2 separate regions of the Homo sapiens genome follow, and region 2 is linked to region 1. The links come from fine-mapping of genetic effects on gene expression. A gene starts in region 1. The other region holds a variant in brackets. All regions are shown on one strand. Distances are between the middles of the regions. Region 1 holds the start of KHNYN (KH and NYN domain containing). Region 2 overlaps LOC101927045 (a long non-coding RNA gene).

The links. PIP is the estimated chance that this variant, and not a neighbour inherited with it, causes the effect.
Region 2: its variant is the best candidate, but not a certain one, in a credible set for the expression of KHNYN in whole blood (TOPMed, PIP 0.74).

What each region holds. Positions count from the first base shown.
Region 1 is chr14:24,427,690-24,433,058 of GRCh38, reverse strand. KHNYN (KH and NYN domain containing) reads right to left here and starts at 3,105. Exons shown (of 8, transcript NM_015299.3): 1 at 2,940-3,105; 2 at 2,128-2,345; 3 at 449-1,596; 4 at 207-337; 5 at 27-123. The coding sequence starts at 2,328. CBLN3 (cerebellin 3 precursor) reads left to right here and starts at 3,391. Exons shown (of 3, transcript NM_001039771.3): 1 at 3,391-4,304; 2 at 4,654-4,773; 3 at 5,073-5,369. The coding sequence starts at 4,005. The coding sequence ends at 5,270. RefSeq lists enhancers at 687-1,248, 1,249-1,810, 1,849-1,958, 1,811-2,374, 2,519-2,698 and a silencer at 2,729-3,268.
Region 2 is chr14:24,457,696-24,463,064 of GRCh38, reverse strand. All of the region lies in intron 2 of LOC101927045 (a long non-coding RNA gene), which reads right to left. Among named protein-coding and RNA genes, the nearest start is that of SDR39U1, 18 kb to the right of the region's middle. The variant A/G (reference allele first, on the strand shown) is at 2,953.

The sequences.
Region 1 (5,369 bases):
CCTGGGGCCAGGAGAGGAGCAAGTACCTGTCATCATAGGAGGAGATCCTCTTGCCATCCATGACTCGTGAGGGTGTGAGGGAGAGCAGGCTGAGGGAATACAGCTTTTGCAGGAAGTGACTCTCTATTGAAAAAGAACATAATAGGGTTCTCCTCAAAGTGGAAACAGAGCCTATCCTGGGACACTGAAGACCAGGCCCAACTCACCTCTGACTTTGGCATCCTTACTGAAGCGCCACTGAGGCACAAAGACAGTTATGTCACGGTGACCACGGTCCCAGAAGTACTGCACAGCAATGGCAATGCCCCGGCTGGAGAAGTAGTGCTGGAGGCCATGCCTGTAGTGGGAGGGGGTCGGCCAGAGGAGGGGCTTGGCACCCTGGCTACAATGCCAGCCCCTCAGGACATATCCTCCCTCTCCTAGGCCCTTAGCCCCACCAGGTACTCACACCATGGCCACGTTGCTGCCGTCAATGACAATATGGCGGAGGTCTGGCTGGCCAGGCACATTGGCAAGGCACAGGGTGAAAGGATCCTGCAGGGCCTCCTTGAAACGCTGTGTGCCAGTCACCAAGTTGCCCCCTCGGGCGCCTCGTTTCCATTGAGGCCCCCGACCCCGTGCCATGCCCTGCTGCTTGTCTCCCCTGTCCCCCACGTCTCCCCGGTCTCCGCAGTCACCCCGGTCTCCACAGTGCCATGGGGGTTCCGGTGCAGGTGGAGGGCTGGGCACCCTCGGAGGAGAGGCATTCCCATTGTGGAGCCGCTGGAGGAGGGAGGCTCCTCGGGACTGAGCTGCCCTGTGACAGGAGCCATGGGCACCGGGAGGCTCACGGTGGACACAGAACCCTCCTCCTCCCAGAGCTATCTCCTCCTTCCCCAGGGCCTTCCCTTTCAGGGGTGCTGACTCCCTTGCCCCTCCACCCACTGACTGTGGCCTGAGGGCCACTTCTCTCTCCCACGCCTCTTCCCCAGGCAACTCCTTCCACCCCCAATCCATCTCCCTGGGACCACCCTGTTTCCCTCCCTCCTTCTCCACAGCGTAAGTGTCTCCCCTTGCTCCCCTGCAATCTCCGGGTCCCATAGATCCAGTGTCCAGGGACTCCCTGCCGTCACTAGGGGGAGCTCTCACTCCTTGGCACTGAGCACCCAGCAAGGCTGAGCTCCGCCCCTCCCAAGAAGCCAGTGCTCCTGGCCCCTGCCCACTAGACGCCTCCTGCACCAGACTCAGCAGCTCCTCCTGGACAGCCAGGGGCAACTGCAACAGAGCCTCTCTATGGGCATCCCCCGGGGACTGCAGCAGGGCAGAGAAGTCTCTCAGCACTCCAGTACACTGAGAGGCTCCGGAAGATGGTCCTGGCGTGAAGTCCCAGCTCAGCCGCTCTGCCAGCTCTTCTACCCGGCTCTGAGCCATGACAAAGGCTTCAGTCAGGCCACTGATCATCAGTGAGCCTGGCGCCCTGGGCACCAGATGGGCTGACGTGCTCCAGGCCAGGCAGTCAAGGAAGAAGCCCTGGGCTCCCAGAAAGATGCAGTGCAGTTTGGGCGGGTAGTGGATTTCATCCTGCAGTTCTGGGCTGCAGAGGCCCTTCAGGTACTCCTGGTTGGGAGGAAGGGAAGGTCAGGAAAAGTAAACTAACTGGCCCAGATCACCCCTCCTGGCTCCTTGCTCGCTCCTGAGCTCCAGGATGTCTGGAGTATCCACATGATGTTATTCCCATTTTAGAGATAAGGAAACTGAGACTCCCATCACAAAGCTGGTACATGATTGAGCCATCCTGGAACCCCAGCCTAATCCCAAAGGAAGCAATGTGGCCCAGCCTCCCACCCCACAGTGCATTCCTTGGTGGGGCCAACTTGTTCAGCCAGATATCTCTATTCTCCCAAAGAGCACAGAATGATTTTTGCCAGCCTGGGCCATCACAGAAGAAATTAAGCTGAAACTGAAAACAAATATAGAGTTGGAAAGTCCCTCAAAACTCAGGGGCACTGAGGTTGCCAGTGAGACAACCAAGAAGTGGAGATCCTCCCCAGGCCCCTCCTCTTCCCTGCTCTCCTCGGCCCTGCTCTCCTCCGCCCTGGGGGAAAGCGTCCTTGGTGCCTGGAGGGATGGGGGAGAGAAGGCGTTCACCTTGGCTCTGCTGGCGTTTTCCTTGGGGCCCTCCAGCTGCAGCCAGATGTGGGGGTTGTCCGGACAGTCCTTCGGAAGGACGCTCACCCCCACGCTGAAGATGCGCTCCACATGGGGCTGCTGTTCCCGAACCTTGTTCTCAGCCTCCGCAGACACCGCAAAGCGATCTGGGGACGCGGGGCGGGCCCCCCAGGTAGGCATGGCTGCTGCCCCCAGCCCTGGAAGGGGAGAAGGCAGCTCAGAGCCTCATTGTACCCTCCATCCAAATCCTGGTTCCTGGGACTACACCAGCTATCAACAGGTCGCACCTAGTTAAGGCTCTGGTAAACAGCCCCAGGAGGTGACAAGCATCTGAGTCCACTGGAGGTAGGGAGGGTGTATGTCACGCAGGCCTCTCCGGAGAGGAAGTCCCGGTAAACAAGGCTGTCTATCGAGAGTGGGCGTCTGGGCTTTGGAAAAGGATGACCACAGTCCGGAGCAAGAAGGGTGGGGGGGCTCCAGCTCGGCCTGGAGGCCAGAAGGAGTCTCCTGGGGCACTCTGAAGCTTCTTAAGGACGAATCCTCAGCAGGGGATTGAACTAGGCTGTCCTCTGGGGGCCCTGGTCTGCCATTTCCAAGGTTCAAGCCACTCCCACCCCTCCCCCAGCCGTCCGCTGCCCCTCTCCGTCGGGCCAGGAGCACCGCCCAGGGCCCAGGGGCCGGGCCGGGCCGGGCCCGCCCACCGCGGACTGGGGCAGCCACCCCGGGCCGGGCCTACTCCGCACCGCGGCCCCCGCTCCCCGCTCCCGGGCGCGGTGGAGGGGCGCGCCTACCGCCTCCGCCGCCCGCGCCGGCTTCAGGTCCTCTCAGCGCCCGCCAGGCCCCCGCTTTGCCCGCGCCCCCAGCCCAGGGGACAAGGGCAGGGGGCCCGAATCTGGGCGGGCCTTCCCGGGTTCCTCACCCAGCGGGGACCTCTCTTGTCCACATCGCACGCAAACTGTTTCTTGAGTCACTTCCTGGCCTGGGGCGGAGTCAGCCCAGCTCCTCCCGGCTGCGCGCCCTCCTCCCAACCCCGCCGCCGCGCCCAGAGGCCCCGACGGGCCCGCTCGGCCTAGTCCCCTCGGCGGCTCCAGGGCTCGCCCCTTGCGCTTCTCACCAGCCCTCCCGTCTGTCTCCCGGCCCTCAGGGTCCTCGCGCATTCTGCGCAGTTACTTCTCGGAAAGGGGAACCATGCGTTGAAAGTTGTTTCCCGCGAATAAAGATGTGGCCGACCAAAGAGGCAGCGTGACTGGCCCACTGGTGCTCTAGGCCCAAGCACTTTCCACCAAAGCAATCGTGGCGGAGGGGGTAGGCGGGAGGCGGGAGGCGGAGGGTACCCGTGGTGGAGTACCCCTTTCTTCCAACAAACGGAAAGATGCCACGAAGAAGGGCTGTTGATTTGTGGGGGATTTTGAAGAGAGGAAGAGTAGGAGGAAGGGGTTGAGGGGCTGCCTCTGGCATATGCACACACTCACACATTCTGTCACACCCGTCACACACACATACCATGTTCTCCATCCCCCCAGGTCCAGCCCTCAGTGCTGTCCCATCCAGCAGGGCTGCCCTGAAGCTCTGGCTGCAGCCCTCCCGTCCAGTGGGCAGGCGGCTTCATCCCTCCTTTCTCTCCCAAAGCCCAACTGCTGTCACTGCATGCTCTGCCAAGGAGGAGGGAACTGCAGTGACAGCAGGAGTAAGAGTGGGAGGCAGGACAGAGCTGGGACACAGGTATGGAGAGGGGGTTCAGCGAGCCTAGAGAGGGCAGACGATCAGGGTGCCGGCGGTGAGAATCCAGGGAGAGGAGCGGAAACAGAAGAGGGGCAGAAGACCGGGGCACTTGTGGGTTGCAGAGCCCCTCAGCCATGTTGGGAGCCAAGCCACACTGGCTACCAGGTCCCCTACACAGTCCCGGGCTGCCCTTGGTTCTGGTGCTTCTGGCCCTGGGGGCCGGGTGGGCCCAGGAGGGGTCAGAGCCCGTCCTGCTGGAGGGGGAGTGCCTGGTGGTCTGTGAGCCTGGCCGAGCTGCTGCAGGGGGGCCCGGGGGAGCAGCCCTGGGAGAGGCACCCCCTGGGCGAGTGGCATTTGCTGCGGTCCGAAGCCACCACCATGAGCCAGCAGGGGAAACCGGCAATGGCACCAGTGGGGCCATCTACTTCGACCAGGTAATCCCCCTACCCCTGTCCAGGGGACCTGGAAAGACCCTGCAAGGACCTGGAAGCAACTGTCCAAGCCCACTTTGCTGTCTCTGAGGCTTTAAGAAAACAGCTTCCTACATCTTTCACTAATCTGGCCTATTGCCCCACCACCCCACCGACGGTTTCCCCTCCCTCCACCCATACGCAGCCCTCTCCTTGCCCCTTCTCACCATTTCTTTTGAATCTGTTCACTCCTATTCACTCCTACTTGCCACTCCTTCTATTCATTACTCACTGCCCCTGCCCCTAGTCCCCATGGTACCCCTGAGCCATGGGCATTTCCTGAGCCCCACTCAGCAGGCTCTGCTTCCCCCAGGTCCTGGTGAACGAGGGCGGTGGCTTTGACCGGGCCTCTGGCTCCTTCGTAGCCCCTGTCCGGGGTGTCTACAGCTTCCGGTTCCATGTGGTGAAGGTGTACAACCGCCAAACTGTCCAGGTGACCTCAGCACTGGCCCCCATCCCCGGCTCAGGAGGGTGGGGAGGGGGAAGAAGGGGAGCCCAGCTGACCTCCGGGTGGACTCTCCATTGACCTGTGTCCTGGAGGCCAGGACCAGGGGAGGAATGGGCCTGCCTTGCATTGAGTGTGGAGGATGTGCAGAGTCCAATGCTGGCCGCCCCTCAGCCCTCCCGGGAGAGCCCATTAAAACCCAGCTTCCCAAGAGGAAGCTCCTGGGAAAGTGGGGGGTCCTGAGCTAAGGGCTGGGGAATGGGGGCTAACTGGGCTCCCCTCCCCAGGTGAGCCTGATGCTGAACACGTGGCCTGTCATCTCAGCCTTTGCCAATGATCCTGACGTGACCCGGGAGGCAGCCACCAGCTCTGTGCTACTGCCCTTGGACCCTGGGGACCGAGTGTCTCTGCGCCTGCGTCGGGGGAATCTACTGGGTGGTTGGAAATACTCAAGTTTCTCTGGCTTCCTCATCTTCCCTCTCTGAGGACCCAAGTCTTTCAAGCACAAGAATCCAGCCCCTGACAACTTTCTTCTGCCCTCTCTTGCCCCAGAAACAGCAGAGGCAGGAGAGAGACTCCCTCTG
Region 2 (5,369 bases), 30 kb before region 1:
TAAGAAACTTGCCCAAAATCACACAGTTGTTAAAGAGAAGATCTGGACTTTGAACTCAGGGAATCTTTTTCCAGGACCTGCACTCTCAACCACCATTCTTTCATTTACTCAAAAAATACTAATTGAGCATCTACAAAATGAAGGTACTCTCCAAAATTCTGGGGTGAAGAGTGAACAAAGCAGATAAAATCTCTGCTCTGACACATGCACACATATGTTTATTGCAGCACTATTCACAATAGCAAAGACTTGGAACCAACCCAAATGTGCAACAATGATAGACTGGATTAAGAAAATGTGGCACATATACACCATGGAATACTATGCAGCCATAAAAAATGATGAGTTCATGTCCTTTGTAGGGACATGGATGAAATTGGAAATCATCATTCTCAGTAAACTATCGCAAGGACAAAAAACCAAACACCGCATGTTCTCGCGCATAGGTGGGAATTGAACAATGACAACACATGGACACAGGAAGGGGAACATCACACTCTGGGGACTGTTGTGGGGTGGGGAGTGGGGGGAGGGATAGCATTAGGAGATATACCTAATGCTAAATGACGAGTTAATGGGTGCAGCACACCAGCATGGCACATGTATACATATGTACCTAACCTGCACATTGTGCACATGTACCCTAAAACTTAAAGTATAATAATAATAATAATAATAAAATCTCTGCTCTTGTGGAGTTTGCATTCTAGTGAGAAGAGACAGGTAACAAACAAACAAGTAAATACACAATACATCAGACGATAATAAGTGGTATGAAACATAAGACAGGATGAAGGAAAAACAAAGTTCCAAAGGTGAGGAAGAAAACCGATTTTAAATATGCTGGTCAATAATGTCTAATAAGACATTTGATTAGAGACCTGAAGGAAGTGAGGTCTGGGAGAGCCATGTGGCTATTTGGAGGCATGGCATTTCAAGCAGGGGAATAGCAAAAAGGCCCTGGGCAGAAGCAAGTTTGTCACGCTATACTGAGAAGCCAGTGTGACTTGGGCAGGACAGGCAGGAGGTGAGGTCATATAGACAAGTGAGGACAAAATCACTGGGGGTCTCAAGGGTCCCCTGAGATCTTATAAGATCTTTGGCTTTTATTCTGAAACCAGAATCCATTGGAAGACTTTGAGCAGAGGAGTGGCATGATTGATTTAAGTTTTTATAGGGATCGCTCCGTCTACCAAGTGAACAATAAATTCTAAGGGAGCAAGAGTTAGGGCAGAAAAACCAGTAAGGAGGCCCTTATGATGATCCAGACAAAGATGCCATTAACTTGTACCAGATGGTAGCTGTAGTGAACATGGTGAGATACCTAATTATGGGTTTATTGCATGTATGGATTTCTTTTAGAGATAAATCCAACCATTCCTGCTCATGGATCAGGGGGAGTTAATGATGACTCCAAGTTTTTTATTTTGACCTGAGCAAATGGGAAAACTACACTGCCATTTGCTGAGACTGGGAGAACCAGCAAAGGAACAAGTTTGGGGCCATGGAAATCAAGAGAATGGTATGGGGTGTGTTAAGTTTAGATGGCTATTAGTCATCCACATACAAACATTGGGTAGGTAGTTTGATATTTAAGCCTAGAATTCAGGAAAAATATTCAGGCTGGAGTCAGAAACTTGGGATTCATTAGACACTATTCAAAAACCTGAGATTCATACTAAGGAGTGAGCCTACATGGAGAAGAGGCCCAAAGACAAAGATTGCAGTATGCCAATGTTTAGAGATCAGGTGACAGTCAAAGCCAGCCAAGGGGACTGAGCTGTGGCTAATGAGGTAAGAGGAGGACAAATCATGTCCTGGAAACCAGTGAAGAAAGTGTTTCCACTGAAACAAATGTTGCAGAGAGGCAAAGTATGTGGTGATCTGAGATCAATGAATTTAGCAACATAGAGGTCACTGACAAGAGCTGTTTCAACAGAATGGATGAGAGGCACTAAGCCATGCTACCTCTGTAGATGGAACCTAGCTTCTCTTCAGAGATTTTATTTCCCCTCAAAGTTCTTCAGTCTCAAAAAAGTGAAGTCCCCATGCTGTGTAACAGCATTTCATCTAAGAATCAATACTCTGGCCTTTGCCTGGATGTGGAGTCCTGTGAACAGTCCATAAAAGGTCCTGGTTGTAACCTTCATCCCCACAATCCACACCAGGCACCCTGAACCTCTCAACTCCACCTTCAAGCCACTAGTTACATCCTCAACTTCAGTGCCCCAGGGATCCTACACAGATCTAACCTGGATACTGAGCCCAGGGCTGTCTCTTAATTATTTAGAGTCTAAGCCTTGGGGACAACCTCTGAGTCCTCTCTCTTCCTCTGTTGTCATGGCCACCCCCTTATCCTCTCCTGTCATCTTTCTTTCTTCTCCATCATCTCCTTCTCTATCTAATCAAGTATTCAATGAGATACCTCAGTGACGTAGTGACCTTCTGTCTAAACTCAGCAAAAATTTCATGCTGGTTGTGGTCCAGCCTCCTGTAGCTGGGTCTGGCCTATGTTGATCCATGGAGGAGAAGATGGACTAGCCTACATCTCCCTCCCTAGGAACCCCTCAGGTTGCCAACTGCTGAATGGTATAACGAAATGTGAGCTGAGTGGGTAGAAGACGCATGAACGCAAAGATAAAGCCAGCTCTGGTGATCACTGCCTCAATCCCCCAGGGCCACAGACAACAGACTTTATCCTGTGTCTTCATGACACACACACGCATCCACATGCACATGTGCCTGAGGATTTCCAAGCTGCCTGATCTCCACATTTACTACCATGAGTGCCTGATTTAATAGGTCCTAGTGACAACAACTTTATTATATCAGAGTGCAGGGAGAAAATCAGGCCCAGCCCTCATCATCTCTGCTGTGCGGAGGGGTGTGAGAAGTAGCATTCTGCCAGCACAGAGCTATCCAGCACCTGGGAGGCCCTGTAATTGAGTGTCT[A/G]CCATGAGAAAGGAGCTGGAGAAAGCTGACCTTCCCTGCAAGCACCTGCTCATATCTCCCTGGGTCCCTTCCCCAGAGCCCAGCCTCCCACTACCCCCAACTCATGTGGGGCTGAGTAGACTGTAGGGAAAGGGCCACAGCCACAGTGGAGATGGAGAAATACATTCTCCATAGATTAATTTCAGAAGGGCCTGTGCTGGGGCCAGGGGAAAACAGACCCAGGAGAAGCCTCCCAGTGGCCATTTTACAGCACAGAGCCAGACAGTGGCAAGAGACTGCAGCCAGTAGCCCTTCCTCTGAGTGAGTAGGAAATGGAATTGCTGGGCTGGTGAAGCCTCTGGTGGTGCAAGAAGAGCTGCTCATGCTAAACAGTTCCTCTCAGGTCCAGCCTGGCCAAAGACTAACATCATTATCTATCTATCTATCTATCTATCTATCTATCTATCTATTTAGCTTTCTCTCCCCAGCACTGTCAGAGTATGTAAGAGGGCATTTCTCATTCACTGCCCTGGAAACTAAGAGCAGAGAGACCTCAAGGGCACTTGTTCTCCACAGCAGGTCCTGGCCAACAACGGAGGGTACGGAGCTGATGCTGGAGGCTGGCCAGGTCTCTCAGCTCCTACAAAAGGTCCCACTGGGAACAGATGTCTGGTTAGGGGTCAGACTAGGGATGGGGGCATCTAAAAGTCTTAGTGGAAGGGAAAAAGAAGAAGACAAGGTGCAGCCCCTGGAGAAGACCTGGCATCTCCACAGACATCGAGGTTCAGGAATGCTGTTCCTGTGGCCCCAGACCCTGAGGTCAGAGCAGACTATCTTATAAAAAGGAAGGGAGATTTCTAGGATCCTTTATCCAATGTGTCTCCAGAATTAGGATTTTGGTTGGTTGGTCGATTAATTGGTTAGTTGATTGGTTCTACCATACAGTAACAGAAATATGTAAAATGGTTATGTGAATAGCATTTGGCAAGTAACATCTCAGAGCCTGAGAGAAGTCACAAAAATCTATTCCAACAAAATGAAGCAGGGAACATTCACACAGGTGGCATTGGGAAGGGGCAGAGGCACTTGTCACCAGCAAATCCCCCATCCCACTCTGCCTTGGCCCAAGCTGAAGAAGCAGCCAGGATCCTTCTCTGACTTTTTATCCTGCCCCGCAGGGCTGGCCTGATGCCCCAGAGGTTGACTGAGCTCAGCTCCTTTTGTTGTTTCAGGAAGCAGCTGTGAGGAAAACAGTCCCATTTCAAAGTACTTGTGATTGCTGCAGACCCAGGAGGAAGCCTTTTCTTCCCAAAGGGAAAGCCAGCTGCACTTGCCCCTAAGCCCAGATGTGCAGATGAAAATTTCTCATGTCTTGTTGTCTAAGGTTTGAATGTTTTAACCTCCAAAGTGTCAGATGGACTCTGAGAGCTGCAAAAAGTTTAACTAAAATAGTTCAGTTGCTAAAGGAGAGGCTGAGGAGGATGAGAGAAGTTGACCCACCCATCCCCAGAACCCAGAAGAACGACAGCTTTAAGGAGGTTGGATGGAAAGCTGAACACATTCAGACAGAGCCTGCTCTCCATCAGCCTCCCTGGAGATGAGGGGCTGGCTGCTGCAATGGGAGCTCTGTCCCTATGTACCTCCTCTTCGCAAGGGGTGTAAAGCTCTGCAGGAGGTTTCCATCTCACCTCCTTGAGGATATTGATGGACATCCACCCTCTTAAATCTATACTCTAAAAGGCATGTAATTTAGTGGAACCCTCCCACTCACCTCTCACCTTCTACAGCACAACTCCCAGCTCACTGGAAGGAAAGACATAGCCAGGAGAGAAAGGAAGGAATGTCAACGTTGTTGAAGAGAGGAGGAGTTCCTTAACACCTCAGGGGCTCAGCTGGGTTTCCACAGTGGAGGACAGTGAGTGGGGCTACCCCACCCCTGGTCCAGCAGTAGACACACGACTCAGGCCTGGCCAGGCAGAAAACTCCATACTTGGCCACAATAGTTGGTTCAGAGATGGCACGAGACCCATAACAGTCCAAGAAGAGTCAGTTCTGACATTCTTTATGGAATTAAGAGAAATAGTTACTCTGCTGGAAATAGAAGCCAAGAATTCATTCTCACTCTAAAGGGAGAAAATCTTCCTGAGAATGAAGTCAACCAACAAAAAATAAGAGCTGAGAATTAAAAAGATGTGGATCCTTGATGACATTATGTAAGCACCTGGATCTAGCCATGTATAAAGCCAGTTTGCTTTGCAATATTACCCAACGTATTTTCCCTCTCAGTACTTCCTTTTCCCTCTGCAGTGTAAGGGAACAAATCCGACAAGCCTTAGTTTTGACTCTCAAAAGCAAGTTGTTTTATTCCATATCTAACTAATAGCCTGGAAAGGAGGAAATTCAAGAGCAAGGGTTTTGTTGAGAGAAGACCAAGCATG